Homo sapiens: one gene and its partners. Changing the gene in region 6 together with the main gene of any one other region gives a genetic interaction. Each region holds a gene or a part of one and is shown on either strand. Other genes may lie near its edges. The genes, in order: UBA2, RPL32, MED23, MBTPS2, TIMELESS and RBBP8.

Region 1 (4,158 bases), on a different chromosome or scaffold from region 6:
ATTTCTTTGACCCTATGTCTGTGGCATTCTTTGGAATATGTTTACTCTTGGCTCTAATGTTCTCTTGAGAATTTTGGAGACGAACATTCAGATTATGGCCTGGGTCATTGGTTCATAACCTGTTTTTTCCCCCCTCACTGAAATTAGAAAGGTCCGTCATCTTCCTTTGAGGAAGAGACTATCTGGTAGATTTTCCAAAATCATAATTTGAAATGTACATTTATTGATTCTCTACTGTGGGTAGGTTTCCAAGGTTACAGCCATGAGTAAGATAGGTATTCTGCCTTTGATTTTGTTGGACGAGGAGATAAAACCACCTTTAGTATCAGTTCTGCATTGGGGATGGTTCCTGGCTTCATCCTCTGCTACTATGTAAGCTTGGGAAGTCATTCACTGAGTTTCCTTTCCTGGAAAGCAGATACTCATGTGATCTTCTTTATAGGGTTGTGATGATTAAATGAGTTGTCATATGCACAGTGCTCAGAACAGTTCCTGGCACATTGTAAGTGCTGTATTGTTGTTGCTATTGTTACCACTACTACCATTATTAGAATATGTACCCTCTGCTTTTCTATTGGAGAATGTGGAGGTAGAATCAAGGATGTGTAATGAGTACTTTGAGTTACATAATGCTTGTCACAATTTTTTGTTTTGATTAGAAAATAAATAGGTTCTTATATAAAACATTTAAAACAGTATGGAAATACGTAATGTGTAAAGTGAAAATGCAGCCATTCTTAAGTCTGGTGTGTATTAGAAGAGTCAGCTTTCAATTATAGAAAATACAGGTGAGCACAGGTAACTCCCACGCTTTTACCCATTTTCTTTTTCCCTTTTTTCTGAAATAAGCTCAAGAGCAAGATGACGTTCTCATAGTTGATTCAGATGAAGAAGATTCTTCAAATAATGCCGACGTCAGTGAAGAAGAGAGAAGCCGCAAGAGGAAATTAGATGAGAAAGAGAATCTCAGTGCAAAGAGGTCACGTATAGAACAGAAGGAAGAGCTTGATGATGTCATAGCATTAGATTGAACAGAAATGCCTCTAAACAGAACCCTCTTACTATTTAGTTTATCTGGGCAGAACCAGATTGTTATGTCCTTTGTTCCAAAGGGAAAAAATTGACAGCAGTGACTTGAAAATGATTCTGCTCCCTTTGAAAGCATTCATTTTGCTAGAACTGTTAGACACATTGCAGTATGCTGTATTGAAAGTAGGAATATAGTTTTAAAAACCCTTTGAACAAAGTGTGTGCATAACCAGTCATGAGATAAAACAACACAATGCATGTTGCCTTTTTAATGTAAATACCCGTAGGTATCATTAATAGTTTCAAAATATTGTGGTTTAGTAAAGTTGATACCTGGTTATAAATATTATGCCTTTATTTTTGGCTAGAAGAAGAATTATTTTTAGCCTAGATCTAACCATTTTCATACTCTTAACTGATTGAAACAGATTCAAAGAAGTATCGAGTGCTATGCATTGAAACTTGTTTTTAAATGTTAGATGGCACTATGTATATTAATGTAAAACAATGTTAATTTACTCAAGTTTTCAGTTTGTACCGCCTGGTATGTCTGTGTAAGAAGCCAATTTTTGTGTATTGTTACAGTTTCAGGTTATTTATATTCGATGTTTTGTAAAACTCAAATAACGACTATACTTATGGACCAAATAAATGGCATCTGCATTCTTGTTACACATGCCTGCACAGTTCCTGTTTCTGCTGCCTTATATCTACTGCAGGAATGTCAAATTCTTTTCATTAAAAAAAGAACTCGGTCGGGCACGGTGGCTCATGCCTGTAATCCCAGCACTTTGGAAGGCTGAGGCAGGTGGATCACCTGAGGTCAGTAGTTCAAGACCAACCTGGTCAACATGGTGAAACCCCATCTCTACTAAAAAAAAAAAAAAAAATTAGCCGGGCCTGGTGGCAGGCACCTGTAATTCCAGCTACTCAGGAGGCTAAGGCAGCAGAATTGCTTGAACCCGGGAGGCAGAGGTTGCAGTGAGCCAAGATTGTGCTATTGCTACTCCAGCCAGGGCGATGAGTGAAACTCCATCTCAAAAAAGGTTCAGAAGATCTCCACTGTTTGCCAAAGACGAGTACTTTCTTTTCTTTATTCTTGGAGACTTCACATGTAGGAAGAGTACTTTCTAAAATAAAGCTCTTCCTGCGTGTGGTGGTGGTGCACATCTGTGTTCCAGCTACTCAGGAGGCTGAGGCAGGAGGATGGCTGGAGCCCAGAAGTTCAAGGCCAGCCTGGGTAACATAGCAAGACCCTGTCTCTAAAAAATAAGTAAATAAAATAAAGCTTTTAATGGCAGTGGGTTTTTTGTTCGTTTTTGAGATGAAGCCTCACACTGTCATCTGGCCTGGAGTGCAGTGGCGCGATCCTGGCTCACTGCAGCCTCCGCCTTCCAGGTGCAAGCGATTCTCCTGTCTCAGCCTCCCCTGTAGCTGGGATTACAGGCGCCCTCCACCACGCTCAGCTAATTTTTTGTATTTTTAGTAGAGATGGGGTTTCACTATGTTGGCCAGGCTGGTCTGGAACTCCTGACCTCGTGATCCACCTGCCTCAGCCTCCCAAAGTGCTGGGATTACAGGCGTGAGCCACTGCGCCTGGCCTAATGGCAGTGTTTTTAAAATTTGGATTGTCAGCAGTTGGCCTTTGTTGAGAAAATGTGTGACTTTGCCCAAGCCCAGTAACTTGGAGCCTTGAATTTGAGATGCTGGAAAGGGAGTCCTTCCTCCTTTCTGCAGTGTTTGTCTGGGTTGTCCCCTAGTTTACCAAAGTCCATTTTGAATGTACCATCCCCAGCCCAACTCCAGCCTACAGATAGTGCCAGACCGCCAGTAGGTGGAGTAGCACTGTCTTCCTGGTCCCGGACCTCAGAGGGCTTTGCCTGTTAGGGTACTCTTATCACTCAGAGATGGGCCTTGAGTTTTCAGAGAACAGAAAGCCATTAAGCTGTTTCCCCTATTGTATTCATGTGCCCTTTGTGTTTCTGGCAATAATTTATTTTATATTTCAACTAAATTTTAAATTTCTAATTCATGTATTGTTCCTTGTGTAATTTGTACTGTACCATTCAGCTTATTAACCATTACTCCTTGTTTTCCACCATTTGTAAATTCAGCATGTAATCAGAGCTTTCAGAAAAACCATGTAGAAGACTGGGTGTGGTGGCTCACACCCATAAGCCTTGCACTTTGAGAGGCTGAGGCAGGAGGATCGTTTGAGCCCAGGAGTTTGAGACCAGCCTGAGCAACATGGCAAAACCCCATCTCTACAAAAAATACAAAAAGTAGCTGAGCCTGGTGGCACTTGCCTGTAGCCCCAGCTATTCGGGAGGCTGATGGAGGAGGATCGCTTGAGCCTGGGAGGCGGGGTGTGCAGTGAGCCAAGATTGTACCACTGTACTTCAGACTGGGTGACAGAATGAGACCCTGTCTCTGAAAAGAAAAAAAAAGTCATGTTGACTAAGACTCAGCCTTCTGGAGCCCCAGAGTGGAGTGACTTTCACCTGTGAGCTTCATCTGCCTTTAGGTTTTTAGAAGGTGTTTAATTTTCCTCCAGAAAATAATTTGAAACTTAACTATGTAATATAAAATGAAATATCTTAGGATGCCGTCTCACTCTTCAAACTTTTTATTCTGAAAAGCTCTCTAGAAATTTGATTTTGAAATTCTGTCCATTCTTACACATCATCCTGCCTGCCTTTATTTTTGCAGTGGTGCCGTCATAGGTCACTGCAGCCTTGACCTCCTGGCTTCAAGCAATTCTCCCTCCCCAGCCTCCTAAGTCCCTGGAACTACAGGAGCTCACCACCATGCCCAGCTAATTTTTAAAACTTCTTTTGTGGAGACGGTCTCACGTTGCCCAGGCTTGTCTCCAACTCCTGGCCTCAAGCGATCCTCCCACCTTGGCCTTGCCAAGTACTGGGATTATAGGCCCTGAGCCGCGTGCCCTGTCCTCACCCTGCTTTGTAGACACAGTTAACAATGTGTTCCCGATATTTTGTGTATGTTCTTTTGTTCTTTCCTATTTGAATGTATAGTGCATGATGATAAGTGCCAGTTAGGTCTGCGGAGTTGTTTCTAATTTGGCAGACCAGTGTTTTTCATCTTTGCATTAACTATTACTACCTTTTT
Region 2 (5,623 bases), on a different chromosome or scaffold from region 6:
CATAGTAGCTCATGCCTGTAATCCCAGCATTTTGGGAGGCTAAGGCAGGCAGACCGCTTAAGGTCATGAGTTCAAAACCAGCCTGGCCAACATGGTGAAACCTCATCTGTACTAAAAATACAAAAATTAGCCAGGAATGGTGGTGCACGCCTGTAATCCCAGCTCTTGGGAGGGTGAGGCAGAAGAAACGCCTGAAACTGGGCGGTGGAGGTTGCAGTGAGCCGAAGTCATGCCACTGCACTCCAGCCCCGGCAAGAGAGCAAGACTTCATCTTAAAAAACAAAAACCAATAAAACCCACCTGGAACCAATGCCCTGCAAACCCTCCATGTGCTTTCACCTCTACACCTTTGTGTAAGCACTCTCTGCCTGCCAAGTTTCCTCCTGTTCTCCATCTAATGCAAACTTTCCAGAGCCCTCCTGCCCCTGAAGATACCCCTTACCACAGCACAGACTTAAGAGCCCCTTAAGGTCTGAGGTCCATGTTTGACCTTCTCCCGCTTGTAAGCCAAAAATAAAATTCAAAGGCCCCCAGCAACCATCTGAATGCACTCCCTCCTTGAATAGGGCACTCTTGGTTTCCACAACCTCTTACTGTAGCCAAGACATTCCTTTCTAGTGATAACCAATTCTCGACGAGAAACAGAAAATCTATCCAAAACCTCGAAGTGCCGCCTTTCTGGACCAAACCAATGTATGCCTTATGTGTATTTGATTGATGTCTCATGTCTCCCTAAAATATGTAAAACCAAGCTGCTCCCCGCCCACCTTGGACACATATTCTTAGGGTCTCCCAAGGGCTGTGTCACGGGCCATGGTCAACTCATATTTGGCTCAGAATAAATCTCTTCGAATATTTCAGAGTTCAACTCTTTTGCTTGACACCTTCATAAAGAAAGCAACATTTTGGAAACAACAGCCAAAGGATATTGTAGTAGTGGAAAGTGGCTATTATTGCAGTGTTCACAAAGCAGTCTTTTCCTGGTCTTGGGTCTCTACACTTAGAAGACCAAGTCACCTCCTTCAGCAAAGGAAACACCTTGAATTCCCCAACAAGCATTCTCTAAAATCCTGCAAGGAACAACTTCTGATTCCCTCAGAGAATGTACAACACCCCCCGCCAAAATGCATCCCAAGAGTTTGTAGAGTTCCTGCCAGAAGTGCTCACACAGATGCAAACTTCTGATCACTGAAAACTAGAGGTGGGACCCAACTCACTTGTTGCACATCAGCAGCACTTCCAGCTCCTTGACGTTGTGGACCAGGAACTTCCGGAAGCCACTGGGCAGCATGTGCTTTGTTTTTTTGTTGCTTCCATAACCAATGTTGGGCATCAAGATCTGGCCCTTGAATCTTCTACGAACCCTGTTGTCAATGCCTCTGGGTTTCCGCCAGTTACGCTGAAGGAAATAATACACAGGTGGGTTAGCGTCTGTGCAGAGTGCGAACTCTTCCTTTTGGGGAGGGAAAAAAAGGACCAAATGAAAAGGAAGTATGCCACACAGTAGTTGCCTTTGGTAACAGGACTTCACTATTTCCTTACTTTTTTGGTGGGAAAAACCAGGAGCTCGTGGCTTTAGCCACTAGGGATGAAGGCACCCCCACCATTGCCACTCCCAAGCAATGGAGGAGGCACCAATGGGATGCGAGGGGACTGTGTAGATACTGAGATGGCAAGCACAGCTGCAGACACTGCTCTCAGCACCTGAGTTTTCTTGTCTATAAAATAGGGATCCTGCTGTCACAAGGCAACCCAAAATACAGGACACAAATGCAAAGCCCTCTGAACACATCAAAACGGCCAAATGTCCCTTTTCATTAAAGTTTCGCTTCACACATCAAGAGACATAAGTACCAGCACTAGGGCACACTGGGGGAGACCTGTATTTCTACAGAAAGCTCTTCCACAAGCCAGTTCATCGGTCAAAGATAATCCTGACTAGGTGATGTCAGAAACTGTTGGAAACTCTTTTCTTCACCCCACACCCATTTCCATCCCAGGACCACATACCTTAATTTTGACATATCGGTCTGACTGGTGCCGGATGAACTTCTTGGTTCTCTTTTTGACGATCTTGGGCTTCACAAGGGGTCTGAGGGCGGCCATGATGCCTTTTGGGGAAGAAGCGGCCCCAGGTGAGGAAGAATCCTGGAAGGAGGCTTTCCTGCCCAGGGACTGAACACTGTCGCAGAGTGTCTTCCAATCGCCAGCTACGGAGCAAGCTGGGAATGGAATGGGTGCCTCTGCCAGGCTTGCTTTCCCTCCCTTTCCGAAGCTGGCAGAATACTAGGCACTCTCCAGATGCGATCCCAGGAGGTCAAGGGTCACCTCACCCACTCAGAGCCCAAAGAATGCCAACAGCTGAGCAAATCAAAACTGACCCCAAGACACTCTCAATTTGCAAGGGGCAGCAAATCCCACCCCACCAGTGTCCGAACCCCCAGATGGTCCTTCCGGTAGTACTGGCCTTGACCATCTACTTGAACCTGAGTCTTTTCCTCACCTGTAAAATGAAGATGACACTGCGCGCTGAATGCCTGCAGTGCCTGTCACAGGGTAAATGTTCAATAAAACCTTCTAATTCCCTAGGGAGCTGCTGCGCTACCACACCCTCAACACACACAAAACCACCATATACCTCTGAAGATGCCTCAAACCTGGAGATCTTCCAGTATCAACTCACACCTTCCTCAGTGTGGTCTTCCGAGCCATTGATTTCCTACAGCAGCACCCCTTCTGCTCTCTTCGCAGCCATCAACTGGCCCAGAGTGGGTACTCAATGAACCACGTATTCAAAACGACTCTGCCTTCTGGCCCATGATATCCTCGAAGGCAAGGTGGGGGCAGTTGCATCTTCATATTCCCAGAGATACTACCAGAATTTCTGCCTGCAGCTGGACCAGCCGACCTACAGCTCGTCTTTCCTTGGCGGTCCCGCAGCAGCAGCCCTCGGGCCAGAGACTGCAGCGGAAGAAGCCGGCCATGGCATGAACGAATACACGTGGGCCGACATTGGTGAGCGCTGGGATCCACAGATCCCAGCTGAAAGCTGTCAAGCTGGGCCACCCCTGGTCGTCCCACGGCCCCCAGGAGACCCCGAAGTCTGGCCTCAACTAGCACCCTCCACCGCCAAGGAACAAACAAGCAGCCCGCAGCTCTGAATACAGGCGGAGGGCAGGAGGCTCTGGGACGCAAAGCCCTATCAACTCGGCGGCTTCGTTCTGTTCCTGTACACGCTCCAGTAAGCTGACAATAACAATACCCACAGACACTACCGCGCTGAAGGGGAGGCCTCCGCACCACTGGGCGACGGGGCCAGATGAATCCCGCAGGAATGCGGATTGCCACGGATTAACACTTACCGAGAAGGAGATGGCTGCCACCTCCGTAGGCAGCGCCGAGGAAGAGAGAAGGGACGGTGGCGCGCAAGGGCTGATGGGTCGTAACCCCTGGGTCCTAGCAGGGAAAAAGGCAAGCACTTCCGGCTCCGGCTCTTTTAAATAAAATAAAGACACGTCAAAAAATAATGCCGCAAAAATTCTGAGTATACATGTTTTAATAGACAATAATAACTAGGAATAGGACTGAGAAATGTATTCTACCTATCCTTGGGACTACGTAGAAATTTGGAATTCTTTCTGAGCTAATAAGACCTGGTGGAGGGAGGAATTTACTTCCGCCAGAAGTCGAAGCCAATCCGCTTTTGGGCTATTTCCGCCCGCGTTTCTTCTACTCCGAAGTGCGCCTCTTAGTGGTCAGAAGAGAACAAGACAGAGACTTCCTAATAATTTCATCACCGAATTTAGACAGTAAATAGTAACGAAAACAGCTAACATGCGATGGAGTTCACTATGCCTACCACAATTCTATAACGTACCCCTATTATTGTCTCCATTTTGCATATGTGGAAGATGAAATTTGGAGACTTGACTCCAAACTCCACGCTTCTAACCACTGGGCGAAACTGCCTAGTTTTTCTTTGTTCATTTTTTAGAAATGGGGTCTCACTCTGTTGCCCAGGCTGGTCTTGAACTCCTGGGCTCAAACGATTCTCTCGCCTCAGCCTCCTGAGTAGCTGGGATTACGGGCACGAGCTACTGCCTAGATGTTTTTTGTTTTGTTTTGTTTTTTGGTTTTTGGTTTTTTTTAGACAGGGCCTCCCTCTGTCACCTAGGCTGGAATGCAAAGGTGCCATCTCACGGCTCACGGCAGCCCCTGCCTCCCAGACTGCCTAGTTTTTAAAGATGCTCTTGATTTGTTTTGCTTAGCTTTTGTATTTAAGATTATTGTGCAAATTGGCTGAGCACTATGGTTCACACCTATAATTCCAATACTTTGGGAGTCTGAGGTGGGAGATTTGCTTGAGCCCAGGAGTTCAAGACCGGCCTAGGCAACATAGTAAGACCCTGTCTCTACAAAAAATAAAATAATTAGCTGGGGCTGGTGGCGCATGCCTGTAGTCCCAGTTACTCGAGAGGCTGAGCTGGGATGATCACGTGAGCCCAGCAGTTCTAGACTGCAGTTAGCTGTGATAATGCCACTGCACTCCAGCCTGAGTGACAGAGCAAGACTCTGTCTCAACAACAACAAACCTATAAAGACAAATAACCCAATTGAAAAATGGGTAAAGAATCCAAATAGACATTTCTCTGTGGCCAATGAACACATGAAATGATCCACATCATTAGCCATCAGGGAAATACAAACTGGAACTGCAGTGAGATACCATTTCACACTCACTAGGACAGAGAAATGGGAATGTCCGTACAGTGCTAGTGCAAATATGAAATGGTGCAGTCACTTTGGAAAAGAATAGCATTTCCTCAAAATGTTAAACATAAAGTTACTGTAAGACCCAGCGACTGGGCGCGGTGGCTCATGCCTGTAATCCCAGCACTTTGGGAAGCTGAGGTGGGCAGATCACCTGTGGTCAGGAGTTCGAGTCCATCCTGGCCAACATGGTGAAACCCCATCTCTACTAAAGTTACAAAAAATTAGCTGGGTGTGGTGGCACATGCCTGTAGTTCCAGCTACTAGGGAGGCTGAGGCACGAGAATCACTTGAACTCAGGAGGTGGAGGTTGCAGTAAGTGGAGATCGCGCCATTGCACTCCAGCCTGGGCAACAAGAGCGAAACTTTGTCTCAAAATAATAATAATACATGAATTGGTGTCCCACAAAATGAAGATACTTTTTTTCTGATAAGAATATACACATAAGATTTATGTCAACTCAGTAATCATTCAGGAGGTTTTACTTCCTGAGATTTTTTTTAATGAAAACATTTTCTCAAGTTAGATTCCTAGGGTGTCTAAGTCAATGCCAAGAAAAGTTTGGAAAGACTTTGAGAGAAGGCCAGCCCAGCATCTTTCTTGTAAGCGGAGGTAGATTTGGTTTCACAGAGGCCTACTGGAAGTGATAAAAGGGAAGAATTCTTTAGGAATCACTTTAGTGTTTACTGTACATGCTAGGGACATAAATTTTTTTTAAAAAAAGGAATCACTGTGGTGTAAAATACTATTAAAATTTCTCTAAAAGTCTAGAGCTGGGCTGGATATGGTGGCTCACACCTGTAATCCCAGCACTCTGGGAGGCCAAGGCAGGAGGATTGCTTGAGGCCAGGC
Region 3 (5,483 bases), on a different chromosome or scaffold from region 6:
CTCCAGCCTGGTGACAGAGTGAGACTCCATCTGAAAAAAAAAAAAAAATTGTATTTCATTTTGTTCTAATCTCATTAACAGATGAGGTATATACTTCATTCATTAGAACAACTTGCGGCTGGGCGCGGTGACTCATGCCTGTAATCCCAGCAATTTGGGAGGCCGAGATGGGTGGATCACAAGGTCAGGAGATTGAGACCATCCTGGCCAACATGGTGAAACCCCGTCTCTACTAAAAATAAAAGAATTAGCCAGGCGTGGTGGTGTGCACCTGTAATCCCAGCTAGTCAGCAGGAGAATCACTTGAACCCAGGAGGCGGAGGTTGCAGTGAGCCAAGATCACGCCACTGCACTCCAGCCCAGGCAACAGTGTGAGACTCCGTCTCAAAAAAATAAATAAATAAAAATAATCAAGTGAAAGTAATAGCCAGTGAGAGATGTGAGATTAATTAGAAATATTATTGTTACCAAATTAAAAGGAACTTTAAAAAATTATATTTTATTGTAATACTTTGTATATACTGTATGAACAAAATTCAAACAATTTAAATAATTTCAAGTCACAGGAGATTTTTATCTTCAAATTTTAGGTTTCTTACTGAAGTACTTCTTCCTATAGTGAAGACCGAATTCCAGTTGCTTTATGTATACCATCTTGTTGGACCATTTTTACAAAGATTTCAGCAAGAGAGAACTCGTTGTATGATAGAGGTAAAATATAATCTGGGTTTCCTGTGACATGATTAAATTCTGAAGTATCTATTTAAGTTTCTTTACCAGTGTTATTGAAACTGCAGGTCACAACCATTAGTAGTGAAACTAGTTTAACAGGATCCAAGAGCAATTTTAGAGGACTTAGTTTGCCAGTAATGAATTTAGGGTGGGATGTATTGAATTGGAGATGCAGAGGAAACGCCCATCATGAAGGTTGAGAAGAGGTTAAGGATGGAGAAGTACATTTGAGATCTTACAGTGCAGAGGAGCTAATTAAAATCATGAGAATGGATGAAGTCAGTCACTTCTAACAAAATGTCGCAAACAAGGAAAGGACCCAGGAGTAGAACCTTAAAGCAAGAGCTACCAAATGGAACTAAGAAAGTATAATCCAAAGGATCCCTAGGAGTGGAGTTATCCCAGACATCGAGAGATGGTGTCTAGAAAGGGGATTGTTTATCTCTTGATTTTAAGAGAAATTACTTAACTATGAAGAGAAATTTTATTTAAGCCTTGTCAGGGGCATTTTGTAGCACTATAGATTCTTTTATAAATGCAAGCCATATCATATCTCATGTGCATAGAGGTGTATATGGTATATGACAGTTCTACAGCAAAGACAGTATCCCCCGGTGCTAGTGTTGTAATGGAGCCCAGCTGCATCATGCTGAATTACTGAATCACTTGATCACTTAAATAATTTTACATTATTTGTTAAATAGATTGGTGTGGCGTTTTATGACATGCTGCTGAATGTTGACCAGTGTAGCACCCATTTAAATTACATGGATCCCATCTGTGACTTCCTCTATCACATGAAGTATATGTTTACTGGTGACAGCGTGAAAGAGCAAGTAAGTTGAATTTGTTTAATTATTTTTAATGATGTTTAATTTAGAAAACTTGAACATATAGTAATAGACTTTTTTGGTTTGGGTGATTATTTTTATTTTGTCTAATTTTTTCTTTTAAGGAAAAAGGGTGGGTATGAGACCTTTTTAGGCATCAGAGGCATATTATTCTAGATGTAGTATTAAAGGAAATACATGTTATAATTTCTTGTACTTTTCCCCCTTGATATTTGCAACAGAAAATCTGAAAAAGACCTAGAGGGTTAATTAATAGTAATCTCATTAGGGAGAAACAGTGGGATATGGCTGCTGAAATATGAGCAGAGAGGTTGTTGTGTTATGAGTAAAGGAGGTCCTGCTTCTCCTGACACTCATGGTGACAGTAGACAAACCGCGGCATAACTAGAAGACTAAAGTCAGGATTCTAGACTAATCCTGACTAGAGACTAACTCATGAAAAGCATTTAGAGAATATGGGAATGCTTATCCTGAAGAAAAAAGTCCTAGGGAATTATTTATGACCTCAGCATTTTGGAGGGTTTTCATTTGGAATAGGTATTAGATTCGTTCTGTGTCACTTTAGAGGGTGTATGAATTCTGGTAAAGTTAAAGGGAGGCCACCCTGACTTAGCATATGAAGAGGAACTTCCTAATGGGGATGTCTGAAAGTAGAAAAAGACCTTGAATCATAACTGAGTTTCCTACGTGTAGGAAACAGAATCTGGGCCATTTTAAAGGAGTGGAGGTAGGACAGATAGGGAAAGTTAAGTCCATCCTCCTACCCCTCCCAGTACTTTAGGTTGAGATGCCAAGGAGGTTGACTCCTTTATGTCTCAGCAGCAGTGTCAAAGAGAGTTGACCTGTTCTCTCTCATGTAAGAAAGAGAGAAATTGTATCTGCTTTTGTTACAACACAGAACATGCAGAGAAACTGTAAAAGAAATTGTTTATTTGTTTGTTTTTTTAAAAAAAGTATTCTTTACATTTAGGCCTAAGAAACTTTAACACAAGGGAGTACAGAAAGGAAAAGGTCAAAGAGCATTTGAGTAAAGCTAAGAAAGCTGTGAAACGACTTGATGTGTTTGTCTCCTTAGTGTTTTTCAAAAGAGTAGATCTAATATTATTTAGTTAATTCCAAGTGTAAATCAAAACCAAAATAGTTTTATAGATAAATGTTGCAAACATGAGTTATTCAAAGAACTTTATAATTATGCTTCATGCTTCTGTAAAGATGGCATTTTAAAAGAATGATCAACTTGTTGGATGTATAAAATTTCCAGTGTAAACTCTGCTAGCTTTTGGTAGTGGGATGACTGGCTAGCTAGATGAGTGGATACGCCTTTGTAAGTATATGCATATATATGAATATACATATGGTACATGTACAGACATGCACATATAATATATAAGGGGTGTGTGTGAGGGAGAACGTATTGTTTCTCATGCAAGAAAGAAATCATTGTATCTGCTTTTCTTAAAACACAGAACATGTTAAGAAACTTCTCATCTACCCCACGACACTCCTTAGTTTATTGTCTCCGGATATGTGTAAATCCTGCTTTAAATGTGAGAAGTTGAAATTCTCTGATTAAAGTACGTTTTAATGTGTTTTTATTTCTTAGGTAGAGAAGATTATCTGTAACTTAAAACCAGCTTTAAAACTTCGTCTTCGATTCATCACACACATTAGCAAGATGGAGCCAGCTGCAGTGCCTCCACAAGCCATGAACAGTGGGTCTCCAGCACCTCAGTCTAATCAGGTGCCCGTGTCTTTACCAGTAACTCAGTGAAGCCAGACTGTACTGTGGAGAAAGTAGAAATATATCCGTCTTTGAGAGTGGACTCAAACCTTTTAAATCTGAATGCGATCACACTGTAGTGATATAGTAGAAGCAGTGATGATATTCAGATTGTTTTATTTTGATTCAAATGATGAATCTGTTGACACCTTATAACTCCCATCTCCCTATCTATATTTTTGTCTCTAAGAGATCAAGTAAGATACATGTTGTTCATATTCATAACAACTTATTAGAGCTATGTAGGAACATAGAGGTATCTGTGATCAAATGACTTGTCATTGGCACTTTCAGTCTTTCCTATTCTAGCCGTTGTTTTTGTTTGTATTTTTTATTATTAATGACATATTTAGTCTTCAGATATATTATTTTAAAGGCACCACACATGTAAAACAGTTATTACAAATATTTTATACATAAATCTCTTGGTAGATTTTCAGAATAATAGAGATTTATATCAAGAAAAGGAATCTAGATTTTGTTGCATTGTAGGAGCAAACAAGGCTTCATATTCTTTTTAAAATGACTTGAAATTTTATTATAAATTTCCATAGTTTCTATCAAGGTCAACTGGCAGTTTTATTACCTTTGCTATGGACTTGAACTTACTGTATAAAATTAGTTGGAAGCCATGTAAGAAAATAACATCTGAAAATTCTTGAACTTAAAATCATGCTTAAATGGTTGATTCTCCAATTTCTTTTTTTAAAAATAAGTTAATTGCTTTTGCAGGTTGACACTCTCACCTGACAGATGATGTAATTCTTCAATTTTTATAATCTTAAAATTTTTAAATTTTATATTTGTAAATACAGTACACATTTTATTTCTTGGATTTTGAGAGACATTGTTAATTTTGGGGGAATTGGCATTGCGAAAGACTTGAAAACTAATGAGTAAAGTCTGCTGAATGAATAAACCGTGTGATTGTTTCCCGACTCCATTGGAATGAGTGTCGGCTGTGTGCCAGGTGGTGTGCTGGCTGGGGTCAGTTGGAAATGGGGTACTCTGTGGTTCCTACACTACAGTTGGTGACTGACATTGGCCTAGGAATTAAGAGTTACAGATTCTTTTAAAAAGAACTAGTGAATTTAACCAACTGTATTTCAAATTCATATTTCTAAATACATTCCTCCTAGAACTTTATTTTCTTTGTAGCTCATGTAATTGCCATCACTAAATCATTACTGGCCATGCAAGTCCAGCTAAAAATTTATATAATGGTAAAAGTAATTTTTGCAGACTTACTCTTTTCTTTTTTTTTTTTTTTGAGACGGAGTCTCGTACTGTCACCCAGGCTGGAGTGCAGTGGCATACTCTGGGCTCACTACAAGCTCCACCTCCCGGGTTCACGCCATTCTCCTGCCTCAGCCTCCCTTGTAGCTGGGACTACAGGCGCCTGCCACCACGCCTGGCTAATTTTTTGTATTTTTAGTATTAGTAGAGACGGGGTTTCACTGTGTTAGCCAGGATGGTCTCAATCTCCTGACCTCGTGATCCCCCGCCTCAGCCTCCCAAAGTGCTGGGATTACAGGCGTGAGCCACTGTGCCCGGCCCCTGCAGACTCATTCTTAAAATTACCCAGAAAACATGCTAGAGATTATTTCAAGTGTTAATCTTAGCATAGCGTCAATGTATTCTTGCTGCCTTGAGGAATTTATTGCTTTTTGATCCTAGAATGAGGATAAAATTGTGACACTAGTATTATACAAACAATAGAGGAAATGAAAATCAATATAATCACTTTCTCAAGGACATAAACATTCTAATTAATTTATTACAAATTCAGTTTTCCCTCTCTAGCTTAAAAACATGGGAATATAATTTCCCTGGATAGGCTTTTAAATATGTTTTTAATCAGAGACTAATAGAAGACAAAAACTTTATTTGGGTTTAGAATACAGCAGAGGGGAAAAAAATGCCTTTATGTTTATCACATCCTAAAAGTTTTTCTTTTTGAAAATTAATAGTAAGTTTAGAGTGGCTCTGTCCAGTATGACTTTCTGCAATGATGGAAATGTTCTTTACCTGTGCTATTCAATACACTAGTTAGCAGCTACATTTATCTAGGAAGCATTTGAAATGTGGAACTGAATTTTTTAATTTTATTAAGCTTTAAT
Region 4 (3,500 bases), on a different chromosome or scaffold from region 6:
ATCCTCAAAATTACCCTTTTGTGCAAATGTGGTTATTTCCATTTTAATGATGAGAAAATAGGAATGTTGGAGGAATAATGCCAACTTTCCCAAGGTCATTTAGCTAGTTAAGAGATAGAGACAGGACCGGCCGGGCGCAGTGGCTCACGCTTGTAATCCCAGCACTTTGGGAGGCGGAGGAAGGCGGATCACGAGGTCAGGAGATTGAGACCACGGTGAAACCCCGTCTCTACTAAAAATACAAAAAAAAAAAAAAAAAATTAGCCGGGCGTGGTGGCGGGCGCCTGTAGTCCCAGCTACTCGGAGAGGCTGAAGCAGGAGAACGGCGTGAACCCAGGAGGCGGAGCTTGCAGTGAGCCGAGATCGCGCCATTGCACTCCAGCCTGGGCGACAGAGCGAGACTCCGTCTCAAAAAAAAAAAAAAAAAAAAAAAGAGACAGGACCTCAAACCCATAACATGTCTCAAGAGCCCAATCCCTTAGCAAGTATGCTCATCTAAGAATTTCTTCCTCCAAAATATTTAGGTGTGTGTGTCCAAATATCTTTATCACATTATAAGAGCAGAAACTTAATTAAATGCCCAACAGTTTATTCCATAGAACACAGTGTAGCTATTAAAAATCATATTGAAATAGAAAATACTCATGGGAAGACGTCTGTGATACTGTTAAGTGAAGGGGCAAATTTCAAAACCAGATTTATAATAAAAGTATAGTTTTTAAAATTATGTGTACAGGAAAAGACTAGAAGGACATACATCAGAATGGTTCACAATGGTTTTATATGTGTATGTATGTTTGGGGAGCAGAATTTTAGGCTTCTGTTTTGCTTTGAATTTTCCAGTTTTCTTGCTTTAAACATATTTTTTATAATTAATATAATTATAAAAGAAAGCAGAAATTTCCTCCAAAAGGATACCTTTTAGTCCCAACTCCTGGACTGTAAGAAATAGATTCTCAGTATGTAAATGGTATTCCTGAGCCTGGTGTGTCCCACTTAGCCTAATTTATTGTCTCTCTTTAACAGATGACATAACTTGGGAGTGATTACTTATCTTACGAGAATATATCTTTGCTATCTAAAAAAATTTGCTGTGCAGCTCTTATCTTCCCTTGTGTATGCAATAATATATACCTGCACATTTTAGGAGCACATGATTGTAAGACAACTCCTGCTTCATATGTTTGTAACATGTCTGTAGGTTCCAAATGCCTTAATTTCGACATTAAATTTCAATTTTAATGTATTTGTGTATCTCTTCCACACTATTTTTCTGACCAACATAGTAGACCAACTAATGGAATAGAAGGGTATGGTGCTCCCACACTGATCGGGATCCCTATTAGACCAGCTTTCATTACCAACTCACCTATAACTTGAGGATATTAAAATGAAACTCGCTGATTAATAATATGGAGTTCCTATATTAATCAACACAAGTACTTGGAACCTTGCAATAACAATTCAGCGGAAGGTCTAGGAATTTTAACAAGGATTCCCAAATCAGGCATCCAGCCCTTGAGGTTGGGTCAGCTGCTGCCTGCTTCACTGTCATCCTGCATTCCTTGGCACTTTGCTGGGCTCCCTCATTCTTTCCCAAGGTGAAGACTCCAGGAAGCTAACATCTCAACTGTTTAACCTGGTGTTTCTCATTCTCTTTAGACTGGTGGTGTGCTTGTTCCAGAGAAACTGGCTAGTTCGAAAAATGAAATAGCGTTTTTGCTTTTTATTATGATAGAAATGGAGAAGTGAACCATTGTCATATTACTTTTAGTTTGCAGAACATTCAGCTTGAAGGTTTAATACAGAATGAACATCATGTATCTTAGTGCCCAAGTGGGACTCCCCTGCACCCCCACTGATAATTGCTGCCATATTGTGTCTATGAACAGGTTCCTGGTATAAATTTACCCGTCAATCAACTGACCTATTTCTTCACGGCAGTTCTCATTAGTGGTGTTGTACATGAAATTGGACATGGGATAGCAGCTATTAGGTAATGATATTTACCTTTTTCTTTGTACTACATGCAAAAAAAAGCTTTTCATTTAGGAGGATTTATTACTAAAATCTGCTATATTTGATACTTCACTATTTTTCTTTCTGCGGCTATTGCCTAGTGCATAGCCATCATTTGTTACTTTGAGGAAGCTTCTTTTTTTATAGAGAAGATTAATATGTTGATGAATATGCTCCATTAACCATGGGCATATCTGTAATCAGGGTCTTTCTATCCTTTGCCTTTTCCAGTGTGGTTATCCTCATGATGCCTCAAAGTTTTTTACCAAGTCCTAAAAGCCAATCTTTCTGTTCATCGAGTCAGAATGATAACCACTGTACTCAAAACCCACTCACCTTAGAACTTGATTTGACTTATCAGCTGAAATAATTTCCTGCTTCTGCTTATGTCCTCTGCTGGCTAGAGCAAGAAAACTGAAAGCACTGGGTTTAACAAATATCATAGTCTATCTAGAAACCCAAGTGGAAGATAAGAAGACACCTGGGACTAGCTTTGAGTATCACTCCCTGTTCTTGGTCTTGGCTTCCCAAATGTATCATTGTAACTATACCTAAGCATTTAGAAGCCTATAACACATATAAAATCATGATGGGGAGAGGGCCACGTCATAACTCCCCTGCTACCTCCACTGATAATTACGGCCATAATTAGCAAGCATGCTAATAGGAATGTGTTTTATCCTTTCGGTGTGTGGACCAGAGAAAAGGTTAAAAACCTCTGTTTTGGCAGAGAAGATGTAATCACTTCTTATTACTTTCCAGTTGTTTATGAACAAGAGTCTATTTATTGGCAATAAATCCTCATCTTGACAGAGCATATACTGTTACACAGATGTGCACAATAGTGGCTTAAAGTGGTGGCTGCTGGGTTTTTTTTTTCTTTTAAAATCGCCTTCAGTGCTTTGCAGCCTTTAGGATTTTACCTATAGACACATCGTTAATAACAGCTTAACAATTTACAGTATGTTTGTAAAAATAACTTGGGTAATTTTTTTTTAAGTCCCAACTGCCAAGAAAAAAAATGAACTGTACGGTTGTCTTATATATTTAGTATTAAGCAACAGCACAATATATTTAGGTGATACTTTTTTCTAGGGGGGCTGTTTGGTTTTATGAGACTTAAATATTAATTTTTGGAAAATGAACTGATAAAAAATGGTTCTCTTTTTTTTTTTAATATGGAGATCAAAACCTGCTGAAAAAACTGGTTCTCTTAAGGACAATCTGAGCATTATGCATGTTTAAACATACTTATTTAACGTTAGCTTGATAGGAATACACCTAGATAAATCTCCACCATTATTTATAATTGCTAAGACAAATACAAGTTATTAGGTAATTTACTTGAATTATATCGTCTCCTATGTTCTTCTCTGAAAATAGTTCAGAGTAAACCATAAAAATGTTTTTCATTTAGTTTCTCATAAAAGCCATTTCTGTATATATGTGACTAACTTCAATTATTTGCTCAACATATTGGT
Region 5 (4,972 bases), on a different chromosome or scaffold from region 6:
TGGCTGACAGTGTCAAGGACTTCCAAAGGTAGAGAGGCACATGCTCTGGAGGCTATTGGGATGGGGACTCGTGATCACTTCCTGGGCTTCCTCTTCCACTGACACCTTCCTAATCAGGAAAGGAACCCATATTGTACTGTGGACGGGGGATCAGGAGTTGGAGCTGCAGCGGCTTTTTGAGGAATTCCGGGACTCAGATGGTGAGTAAGCTGGAAACTCAGGGGACCTTTGAGATGAAAGCCAAGCTATCCATTTATTTTGGGGCTGCCTTTTATTCCCAAGGAAAGATTCTCCCATCCCTTCTGTTCACTTACTATATTTGTAAGTGTCATTTTTGGATGAATTGAGGTACCCTCTTTCCAGAGACCTCTGATTTATTTTACTCATCTCTTTCCCTGTTACCCTTGGGTATTCACATGCTTGCTTTTTATAGATGTCCTGGGTCATATCATGAAGAATATCACAGCCAAACGCTCACGGGCCCGAATAGTGGATAAACTCTTGGCTCTGGGGCTGGTGGCTGAGCGGCGGGAGCTGTACAAGAAACGGCAGAAAAAGTTGGCATCCTCCATCTTGGTAACAATCTGACCCTAGCTCTGCTGGCATGGGCTCACTTCCCTTGAAGTGGTCCTTAGGAGCAGTCCACCTGGATTCTTCCTGCCTGAGGCTGTTCTGACCAGGTCCTTCCGAGAGAGCAGGCGCGGGGGGGTGCGGTGGTCAGGAACGAGGAGACTCCACTAAGTTCCTTGTGTTGCCTTCATTTTCATTCCCCCAACCCCCAATGAATTTTAGCCAAATGGAGCGGAGTCCCTGAAAGATTTTTGCCAGGAAGATCTGGAAGAAGAGGAAAACCTGCCTGAGGAAGACAGCGAAGAGGAAGAAGAAGGGGGCTCAGAAGCAGAACAAGTCCAGGGTAGCTTAGTCCTTTCAAATGAAAACCTTGGTCAAAGCCTGCATCAGGAAGGTGAGGACTTTGGCTGGGAGAGATGTCTCAGGTGGAGGGCTTGGGAGTAGGGTCAAATGTAAGTTTCCCTCATTTCCTTAGGCTTTTCTATCCCGCTCCTATGGCTCCAGAACTGCCTGATCCGAGCAGCTGATGATCGGGAAGAGGATGGTGAGTGGACAGGTGACACTTTTAGGAGAAGAGCCCTGGAGGCTATTGGAGACCTACCTGGTCATGGGATGGAGAACCAGTTCTTCCCTTATATCTTCACCATATGACTATTGACCCTGTCTTAGGCTGCTCCCAGGCCGTTCCATTGGTGCCACTCACAGAGGAAAATGAGGAAGCCATGGAAAACGAACAGTTTCAGCAGCTGTTGCGCAAGCTAGGGGTTCGGCCCCCTGCCTCTGGGCAGGTAAATATGTCAGTTACAGTGTCAACCAAGGCGTGTTAGTCCTATTTCCAAATACATCTCCTCCTCCTCCTCACTGTCATGGTGGTCCTCCTTATCCTTATCGTCATCTTGGTCCTTCTCATTGTCTTGTCATCTCTGACCAAGATTCCTGCAGCAGCCATTCTGCTAGTCTTCTTTTCCTCTCTCTAATCTCCCCTTCCCCTAGATCCATCTTCCAGACTGCCTCCAGATTTATCTTTTTAAAATATAGTCTTGATTACAGTTGTCCCTTAGTGTCTGAGAGGGGATTGGTTCCAGGACCCCCCTGCCCACAGATACCAAAATCTATAGATGCTGAAGTCCCTTTTTGTAGTATTTGTAAATAACCTAGGTACAACCTGTATACTTCGTCATTTCTAGATTACATATAATACCTATACAATGTAAATGTTAGGTAAATAATTGTTATACTGTATTGTAAATATATATATATACATTTTATTTATATATATATATATACACACACACACACACACACACATATATATATATATATATATTTTTTTTTTTTTTTTTTTTTTTTGAGACAGAGTCTCACTCCATCACCCAGGCTGGAGTGCAGTGGCTCAGTCTCAGCTCACTGTCGCCTCAACCTCCCAGACTCAGGTGATCCTCCCACCTCAGCCTCCTGAGTAGCTGGGACTACAGGCCTATATTACCACTCCCAGCTAATTTTTTGTATTTTTTGTAGAGATGGGGTTATGCCATGTTGCCCAGGCTGTGTATTATTGTTTAATGTTGTATTGTTATTTTTTTTTAATATTGTCGATCTACAGTGGTTTGAATCCACAGACTCAGAACTTGTGGATATGGAGGGTCAAGTCCTCTGTCCAGAGCCATTGATGGTTCCTTACTGCTTGCAGGACAGAATCCACAAACTCCAAATGGCATCCCCATCCTTGGCCAACCTTTGCAGCCTCACAGCCACACCACTCACACACCGACTTTACATCATAGTCACCCTGGTAGGCTTTTTCATGCCTCCAAATGGTTAATCATGCCAGTCCCTCTATTGGAAGGCTGCAACCGTGCACACAGGGTGACACACACACACACACACACACACACACTCCATCTGTCTTACTGATGGACCTCTACCCAGTCTTCAAGAGTCTGCTCAATTGTCACCTTGTCAGAGAAGCAGTCCTTGTCATTCTTTCAACCCCTGAAGTAAAAATAATCACTTTTGCAGCTGTGATTTGTTCATGCCCCTGATGCAGCCTTAATCCTGTGGAATCTGCTGGGTATGGTGGCTCACGCCTGTAACCCCAGCACTTTGGGAGGCTGAGGCAGGCGGATCACCTGAGGTCAGGAGTTCAAGACCAGCCTGGCCAACATGGCAAAACCCTGTCTCTACTAAAAATACAAAAATTAGCCCGGTGTGGTGGTAGGCACCTGTAGTCCCACCTACTTGGGAGGCTGAGGCAGGAGAATTGCTTGAACCCAGGAGGGTGAGCCTTTATTGCTTTGCCACGGCACTCTAGCCTGGGCAACAGAGTGAGACTCTGCCTCAAAAAGAAAAAAAAAAAAATCCTGTGATACTACAGTACATTTGTTCTTTTTCCCATTGGATTGTGAGTTATTTGATAGCAAGGATCATACCTGATTCACCTTTACATCCCCAGGATTTATTTATTTATTTATTTATTCAATTGACAACTATAGCCAGGTGTAGTGGCTCATGCCTGTAATCCCAGCACTTTGGGAGGCTGAGGTGGGAGGATCGTTTGAGACTGGCCTGGGCAACACAGCAAGACCCTGTCTCTACAAAAAATTTTAAGTAGTTGGGCATCATGGTGGCATGCACCCCTGTGGTCCTGGCTACTTGAGAGGCTGAGGCAGGAGGATAGCTTGATCCCAAGAGATCGAGACTACAGTGGACCATGATTGTGCCACTGCACTTCAGCCTGAGTGACAGAGGCAGACCCCTTCTCATTTAAAAAAAAAAAAAAAAAAAGAACAACCAAAAAAACCTATAACTGGGAACCTCCTAATGTAGCAGGCACTGTGCTAGGCACTGGGTATATATTAGATAGTAAGTATTATAATAAATAGAGTTCACAACCCTTGTGGATCTTCACCAATATTGGGTCATATATATTCAATGAATATCATACTCTGGGAAACAAAAAGCTGGTCCTTTCCCTTTTCAACTTTTTGGCCCCTGTAGGAAACCTTCTGGCGAATTCCAGCCAAGCTGAGTCCTACCCAGCTCCGGAGGGCAGCAGCTTCTTTGAGTCAACCAGAGGAGGAACAGAAGCTGCAGCCAGAGCTGCAGCCTAAAGTCCCTGGAGAGCAAGGCTCTGATGAGGAGCACTGTAAAGAGCACCGAGCACAAGCCCTGAGGGCCCTCTTGCTAGCCCACAAGAAGAAAGCGGGCCTGGCATCCCCAGAGGGTAATAGTGCGACAGCCATCTTCTGAGTATTAACGTGTCAGCCATGTTGGTCTAGAGGGCAGGAAAGGTGTTCTGAGAATATGAGGACCGAGTTCCTAATTTTGTGTCATTTATGGTCATTGCAGAGGAAGACGCTGTTGGTAAAGAGCCGCTGAAGGCAGCACCCAAGAAACGACAATTGCTGGACAGCGACGAGGAACAGGAAGAAGATGAGGGCAGGAACAGAGGTAGGGAATTTGATGGGACCTTCTTTTTCTTCTCTAATCCTGAAGACAAACTCTACCACGTCCTTACCCCTTAACATATTTAGATATTCTCTCTCTCTCTCACCCCCATCGTTCCCACAGCACCAGAGTTGGGAGCTCCAGGAATCCAAAAGAAGAAACGATACCAGATTGAGGATGATGAGGATGACTGAAGAGCTAAGAAGCCTAGGGGTAGAGATAGACACGTTTTTAGATGGTGCATTCAAGTCAGAGTTGGAAGGGTCATACAGGACCCAGAAGCTCCTCTTACTGGACAGAGCAGTAGAATCCCAGGCTCTTTCACGGATTTAGGCTGAGAAACTTCAGCAGCAGTATTGGACTTCTCTGCTGTCAGTCTTTGTTTCTCCCAGTTTTTATCGGTATGCCCCAGCAGCTCTCTGGAGATTTAGTTCTCTTCTTCTAGGAACCATTTCTTTTGGTTATTGGAGCTCCTTAGCAAATAAGAGGAGTGAGTGAAATAGAGAAAGCACCCCGGACCCCTTTTATTGGTCTGTTCCTTTGGCTTTCTCTTGGAGGTGGGTCGCAGCACCAGATGGGGAGCTTTATGACATGACAGGCGGGAGTTTTGTACCACTTTTAGAAGATACCAGATGCCTCTGTCCTCATTTTGTTTCCTATGATCATCCTCTAGATACCAGATAGAGGCCCATTCCTGCATTTGAGATAGGGTTGGAATATAGTACTCTAGATGATGAATGTGTTTGCTTTGTGTTTGGTATTAAACATGTAAGATTAGAAGTTCTCATCTCAGTCTGACTTGGCGATATGTCTAAGTTCCCCAGCCCTTCCCCTGCTGTGCTCTTGAAAGAAGAACTTAACAATTTTAGGGTAAAAAGAGACCAACAGACCGGCACAGTGGCTCAAACCTGTTGTCCTAGCACTTTGGGAGGCTGAGGCGGGCGGATCACCTGAG
Region 6 (4,972 bases):
ATCAGTTTGCTTTGGCTAAGGAGCCAGATGTGAGGTTTAGTAGACTTGCTGATCACTATTACTTTTTAAGTTGTAGCTAATTAATGGTTTCATTTTAAGAACACATATTAAAATATTTACTAATCCATTCAAACTTCTTAACCTGTTGGTTTCTTCAAGGACTATGTAATAAACTTAATGATTCACCTTTATTCTAAGAGAGGCATGAAGTAACATTACCCTAATTGTCTTATGACTCTAAGATGTTTCTGTATTCATAGATCTTTGCTGTGTTTAAATCTTACTGACTTCTCTTGTTTTTGGAAAGTTATACAGATCCTCATCTGTGTTAATACATCAGTCAACTGTCTCTTTTATAAAATATATATAGATATGTGTATATATGTGGATGCTTGTTAAGTCAAGACTAAGAATATTTTTCAGTTTTGGGCTCAGTATGTTTCACCAATTCAAAAGTTAAAAAAACCAATTTTTTTTTTTAATTGAGACAGGGTCTCTGTCGCTCAGGCTGGAATGCAGTGGCACGATCTCCGCTCACTGCAAATTCCGCCTCCCAGTTTCAGGCAATTCTCCTGCCTCAACCTCCTGAGTAGCTGGGGCCACAGGCACGCACTACCACACCTGGCAAATTTTTGTATTTTTAGTAAAGATGGGGTTTCACCATGGTGGCCAGGCTGATCTCAAACTCCTGGCCTCAAGTGATCTGCCCACCTCAGCCTCCCAAAGAGCTAGGATTACAGGCAAGAGCCATCTCCCCCAGCCAAAACAATACATTAGTCTATAGTGGTAAATTAATACTGACCATGAATGATAAAAACCCCTCAATATCTGAATCCTTTCTGTTTAATATAATTGAGATAATTTCTTCCTCTAAGAGAAATAAGAAAATTTGCCTGAAAATTTACCTCATATAGCCAAATAACTGAAATCAGAACTTTTCTCACCATTATCATCTTTCCTTATTCTTTCCTTCCCCTCCCAAATTCTAAAAATGATTGATTATAGGTAAATAAGGAAATGGTAAATGAGGATATCTGGGCTTGTGTTTCATCCTGATTTCAAAGTACATAAAGATAAATGCAAAGTTCATTTATGTTGCAATCTGTCATTTCAGGTATTTGACCTGTCCAAAGACGACTTGATACCTCTATAATGTAACAGAAAAGGTCAGAAAATATTAAGCAAGTAGAAGTGTGGAGCATATTAAGCAAGATGAACATCTCGGGAAGCAGCTGTGGAAGCCCTAACTCTGCAGATACATCTAGTGACTTTAAGGACCTTTGGACAAAACTAAAAGAATGTCATGATAGAGAAGTACAAGGTAAAATCTTTTCTTAAATACTTACAGCAGTATTTTGTTGAGACTGTAGTGGCTTTGTATACCTTTGTATGACAGTCCTGTTTATTATTTCTATTTCAGCTTTTAGGTTCCGGGGGTACATGTGCAGATTTGGTACATGGATAGATTGCATGTTGCTGGGGTTTGGTGTGCAAATGATTTCATCACCCAGGTAGTGAGCATGGTACCCCATAGGTAGTTTTTCAATCCCCACCCTCTTCCCACCCCCCTGACCCTCCACCCTCATGTAGGTCCCAGTACCTGTTGTTCCCCTCTTTGTGTCCATGTGTACTAAATGTGTAGCTCCCACTTATAAATGAGAACATGCAGTATTTCTGTTGTCTGCTCAGGGTAATGGCTTCATCTGCATCCATGTTGCTGCAAAGAAAATAATTTTGTTCTTTTTTATGGCTTCATTGTATTCCATGATGTATATATACTTTTTTTTAATTCAGTCCACTGTTGAATTTTGTACATTTAATGGCCATCTTTAAATTCAAAGATATCTTTTTTTTTTTTTTATTTTTTTTGAGACAGGGTCTCACTGTGTCACCAGGCTGGGGTGTAGTGGTGTGATCACAGCTCACTGCAGCTTCAACCTCCCATTCTCAAGTGAGCCTCCCTCCTGTAGTTGGGACCATAGGCACACGCTGCCATGCCTGGCTAATTTTTTATTTTTTGTAGAGTCAGGGTCTCACTATGTTGCCCAGGCTGGTCTTGAACTCCTGGCCTCAAGTGATCCTTCTGTCTCTGCCTCCCAAAGTGGTGGGATTACAGACGTGAGCCACTGCGCCTGGCCCAAAGATCTCATTATTTATTTATTTATTTATATATTCATGTATTTATTTATTTACTAATTAATTTTCAGAGAGGTTCTCACTCCGTTGCCCAGGCTGGAGTGCAGTGGTATGGTCACAGCTCACTGCAGCTTTAACCTCCCAGGCTCAGGTGTTCCTCCCACCTTAGCCTCCTGGGTACCTGGGACTACAGGTGTGCACCACCACGCCCAGCTAATTTTATGTATTTTTTGTAGAGACAGAGTTTTGCCTTTTTGCCCAGGCTGGTCTTGAACTTCTGGGCTCAAGCAGTCCACTGGCCTCAGCCTCCCAAAGTGCTAGGATTACAGGTGTCCGCTGCTGTGCCCAGCTGATCTTTTTTTCTTTTTCTTTTTGAGACAGGGTCTTGCTTTGTCACCCATGCTGGAGTGCAGTGGTGCAAACATGGCTCACTATAGTGTCAAACTCTCGGGCCCAAGTGATTGTCCCACCTCATCCTCCCAAGTAGTTGGGACTACAGGCGCACGCACCATGCCCAGCTAGTTTGTTTTTGTTTTTGTTTTTTTTAAACTTATCCTTCACCTTAGAACACCTAGCTAGTTTTTGTATTTTTTGTGGAGTCAGGGTTTCGCTATGTTGCCCAGGCTGGTCTCAAACTCCTGAGTTCAGGTGATCTCCCGCCTTGGCCTCCCAAACAGCTAGGATTACAGGCGTGAGCTGCGCCCAGCCAGATCTCATTTTTAGAGGACATTTACAATTGTAGTTTTTGTGATTCATTTTTATGGTCAAATTGGTGCTTTTTAACCACAGAACATAGTTTGTATACAACTTGCTGTTATTTACTTGTGGTAATATGTATGAGATAGTGGAAAACGTATACAATTTGTTGACTGAAGACCTGCATTTGAATTCTGATTTCATTTACCCACTTGCTCTGTGATCTTAGCCTAATTACCTAACCTCTAAATTTAATTTTCTTCTATAAAATTCTTTGCAGGATATAGACATAAAAATACTACATAAAGTCATTTGACAAACCCGTAGCACTGAAATACAAAAGTGAATGGCCACTTACCTTCAGACAGCCTGCAGTCTTAGTAGAGTCGTGTAAACAGATAATTACAGTACAGTGAAATAACAGTTAAAAGGTTTTTATGACGTGCAAGGAGTTTTAGAGGATTAAGCAATTGTGGTTGAGATGAGTAAATATTATTTGTGTTAAAAGATACACCATATGAAGCTAAGCTCAAGGTTTTAATATTAAATTTTAATATACTTTAATTCTGTAACTTTCCCTATGTCCCTATGTATGAGAAATGCTTCATATTACATTTGTTTCTTGATTACCTATTATAAGTTTAATATTGCAGTGCTTTATAGCTGTATCATTACACTGGAGTACTATTAAAACATAATCAACCTGAATCTAAAGTGTAGTATGTGAGTCTGTATTAGAACTTTCTTATGGTAGGCTGGGCACGGTGGCTCACGCCTGTAATCCCAGTGCTTTGGGAGGCCAAGGTGGGCGGATCACCTGAGGTCAGGAGTTCGAGACCAGCCTGACCAACATAGAGAAACCCTGTCTCTACTAAAAATACAAAATTAGCCGGGTGTGGTGGTGCGCACCTGTAATCCCCGCTACTCAGGAAGGCTGAGGCAGGAGAATCGCTTGAACCCAGGAGAATCGTTTGAACCCAGGAGGCGGAGGTTGCAGTGAGCTGAGATCACGCTATTGCACTCCACCCTGGGCAACAAGAGCGAAACTCCGTCTCAAAAAAAAAAAGAACTTTCCCATGGTAAGTTTAGTTTCTTGCAAAACTTCTGGTGACACCCTTATTAATTAATGAGTTTTGAAATATGAACAACCCCAAAAGTATTCTTTCAAGCCCCAGTGTTCATGGAGACACAAAGAAATGTTCAAGAAATGTTTTTTGGGCACTTACTATGTGCCAGACCTTGTGAATAAGAATAAATCCTATATAGTGCTAGCTTTAAGGGAATTTCTAGTCTAGAATTTTAATGCAGTATACTATGTTATTATCTGAAAACATGAAGGAAGAACTGAGGGTGTGTGTGGTTGCATGGGGAAGTGGGTTTGTGCATGGTTTATGTCAGACCAGGCTTGATAATTAAGTCTAATTAGCCAGGCAAGGAAGATGGTGGAAGGGGAGGGAATTTTCTGAGTAGAGAGAATAGCACATGCAAAAGTTTGCAGATAAGAGCTTGATTTTATTCAAGGAACTCTGGATAGTTAGGTTTAGTTCTAAGAGGAAATGGAATGGGAGATTGGAGTTTTGGGGGAGGTGGATAGGATATGATGCTAGAAATGTACATAGATCCAAATTATGTAAAATGGTATGTGCTATGCTGAAGAGATTGTCATCTTGCCTTGACTTTAGGACAGATTTCTCTATTTCTGCAAAAAATGTTGGGATTTTGGGATTTGGGATTTTGATAGGTAATGCATTGAATCTGTAGATTGCTTTATATAGTATTGACATCTTAACAATATTGTTTTGTAGTCCATGAACACGGGATACCTTTCTATTAGTGTCTTCTATATTTCTTTTTTTTTTTTTTTTTTGAGACAGAGTCTTGCTCTGTAGCCCAGGCTGGAGTGCAGTGGCGCGATCTCGGCTCACTGCAAGCTCCACCTCCTGGATTCATGCCATTCTCCTGCCTCAGCCTCCTGACTAGCTGGGACTACAAGCACCCGCCACCACGCCCGGCTAATTTTTTGTATTTTTAGTAGAGACGGGGTTTCACTGTGTTAGCCAGGATGGTGTCGATCTCCCGACCTCGTGATCCGCCCGCCTCAGCCTCCCAAAGTGCTGGGATTACAGGCGTGAGCCACTGC

What was found.
Region 1: changes in RBBP8 (region 6) and UBA2 together harm fitness more than expected from each alone (negative genetic interaction), as found in Homo sapiens cells (one large-scale study listed by BioGRID).
Region 2: changes in RBBP8 (region 6) and RPL32 together harm fitness more than expected from each alone (negative genetic interaction), as found in Homo sapiens cells (one large-scale study listed by BioGRID).
Region 3: changes in RBBP8 (region 6) and MED23 together harm fitness more than expected from each alone (negative genetic interaction), as found in Homo sapiens cells (one large-scale study listed by BioGRID).
Region 4: changes in RBBP8 (region 6) and MBTPS2 together harm fitness less than expected from each alone (positive genetic interaction), as found in Homo sapiens cells (one large-scale study listed by BioGRID).
Region 5: changes in RBBP8 (region 6) and TIMELESS together harm fitness more than expected from each alone (negative genetic interaction), as found in Homo sapiens cells (one large-scale study listed by BioGRID).

The regions. Positions count from the first base shown.
Region 1 is NC_000019.10:34,468,191-34,472,348, forward strand, and holds the end of UBA2 (SUMO-activating enzyme subunit 2), read left to right. Parts: intron 1-849; coding exon 850-1,031; 3' UTR 1,032-3,061; downstream 3,062-4,158. UniProt on the Homo sapiens protein: The heterodimer acts as an E1 ligase for SUMO1, SUMO2, SUMO3, and probably SUMO4. It mediates ATP-dependent activation of SUMO proteins followed by formation of a thioester bond between a SUMO protein and a conserved active site cysteine residue on UBA2/SAE2.
Region 2 is NC_000003.12:12,838,132-12,843,754, forward strand, and holds the start of RPL32 (large ribosomal subunit protein eL32), read right to left. Parts: upstream 3,435-5,623; 5' UTR 3,363-3,434; intron 2,320-3,362; exon of another isoform or gene 2,112-2,319; 5' UTR 2,107-2,111; coding exon 2,011-2,106; intron 1,400-2,010; coding exon 1,218-1,399; intron 1-1,217. UniProt on the Homo sapiens protein: Component of the large ribosomal subunit. The ribosome is a large ribonucleoprotein complex responsible for the synthesis of proteins in the cell.
Region 3 is NC_000006.12:131,585,550-131,591,032, reverse strand, and holds the end of MED23 (mediator of RNA polymerase II transcription subunit 23), read left to right. Parts: intron 1-590; coding exon 591-711; intron 712-1,436; coding exon 1,437-1,568; intron 1,569-3,186; coding exon 3,187-3,354; 3' UTR 3,355-4,095; coding exon of another isoform or gene 4,096-4,113; 3' UTR 4,114-4,301; downstream 4,302-5,483. UniProt on the Homo sapiens protein: Required for transcriptional activation subsequent to the assembly of the pre-initiation complex. Component of the Mediator complex, a coactivator involved in the regulated transcription of nearly all RNA polymerase II-dependent genes.
Region 4 is NC_000023.11:21,849,617-21,853,116, forward strand, and holds part of MBTPS2 (membrane-bound transcription factor site-2 protease), read left to right. Parts: intron 1-1,892; coding exon 1,893-1,996; intron 1,997-3,500. UniProt on the Homo sapiens protein: Zinc metalloprotease that mediates intramembrane proteolysis of proteins such as ATF6, ATF6B, SREBF1/SREBP1 and SREBF2/SREBP2.
Region 5 is NC_000012.12:56,416,955-56,421,926, reverse strand, and holds part of TIMELESS (protein timeless homolog), read left to right. Parts: coding exon 1-28; intron 29-117; coding exon 118-200; intron 201-433; coding exon 434-576; intron 577-792; coding exon 793-964; intron 965-1,045; coding exon 1,046-1,114; intron 1,115-1,239; coding exon 1,240-1,358; intron 1,359-3,567; coding exon 3,568-3,793; intron 3,794-3,918; coding exon 3,919-4,020; intron 4,021-4,140; coding exon 4,141-4,211; 3' UTR 4,212-4,972. UniProt on the Homo sapiens protein: Plays an important role in the control of DNA replication, maintenance of replication fork stability, maintenance of genome stability throughout normal DNA replication, DNA repair and in the regulation of the circadian clock.
Region 6 is NC_000018.10:22,935,640-22,940,611, forward strand, and holds part of RBBP8 (DNA endonuclease RBBP8), read left to right. Parts: intron 1-1,114; 5' UTR 1,115-1,212; coding exon 1,213-1,321; intron 1,322-4,972. UniProt on the Homo sapiens protein: Endonuclease that cooperates with the MRE11-RAD50-NBN (MRN) complex in DNA-end resection, the first step of double-strand break (DSB) repair through the homologous recombination (HR) pathway.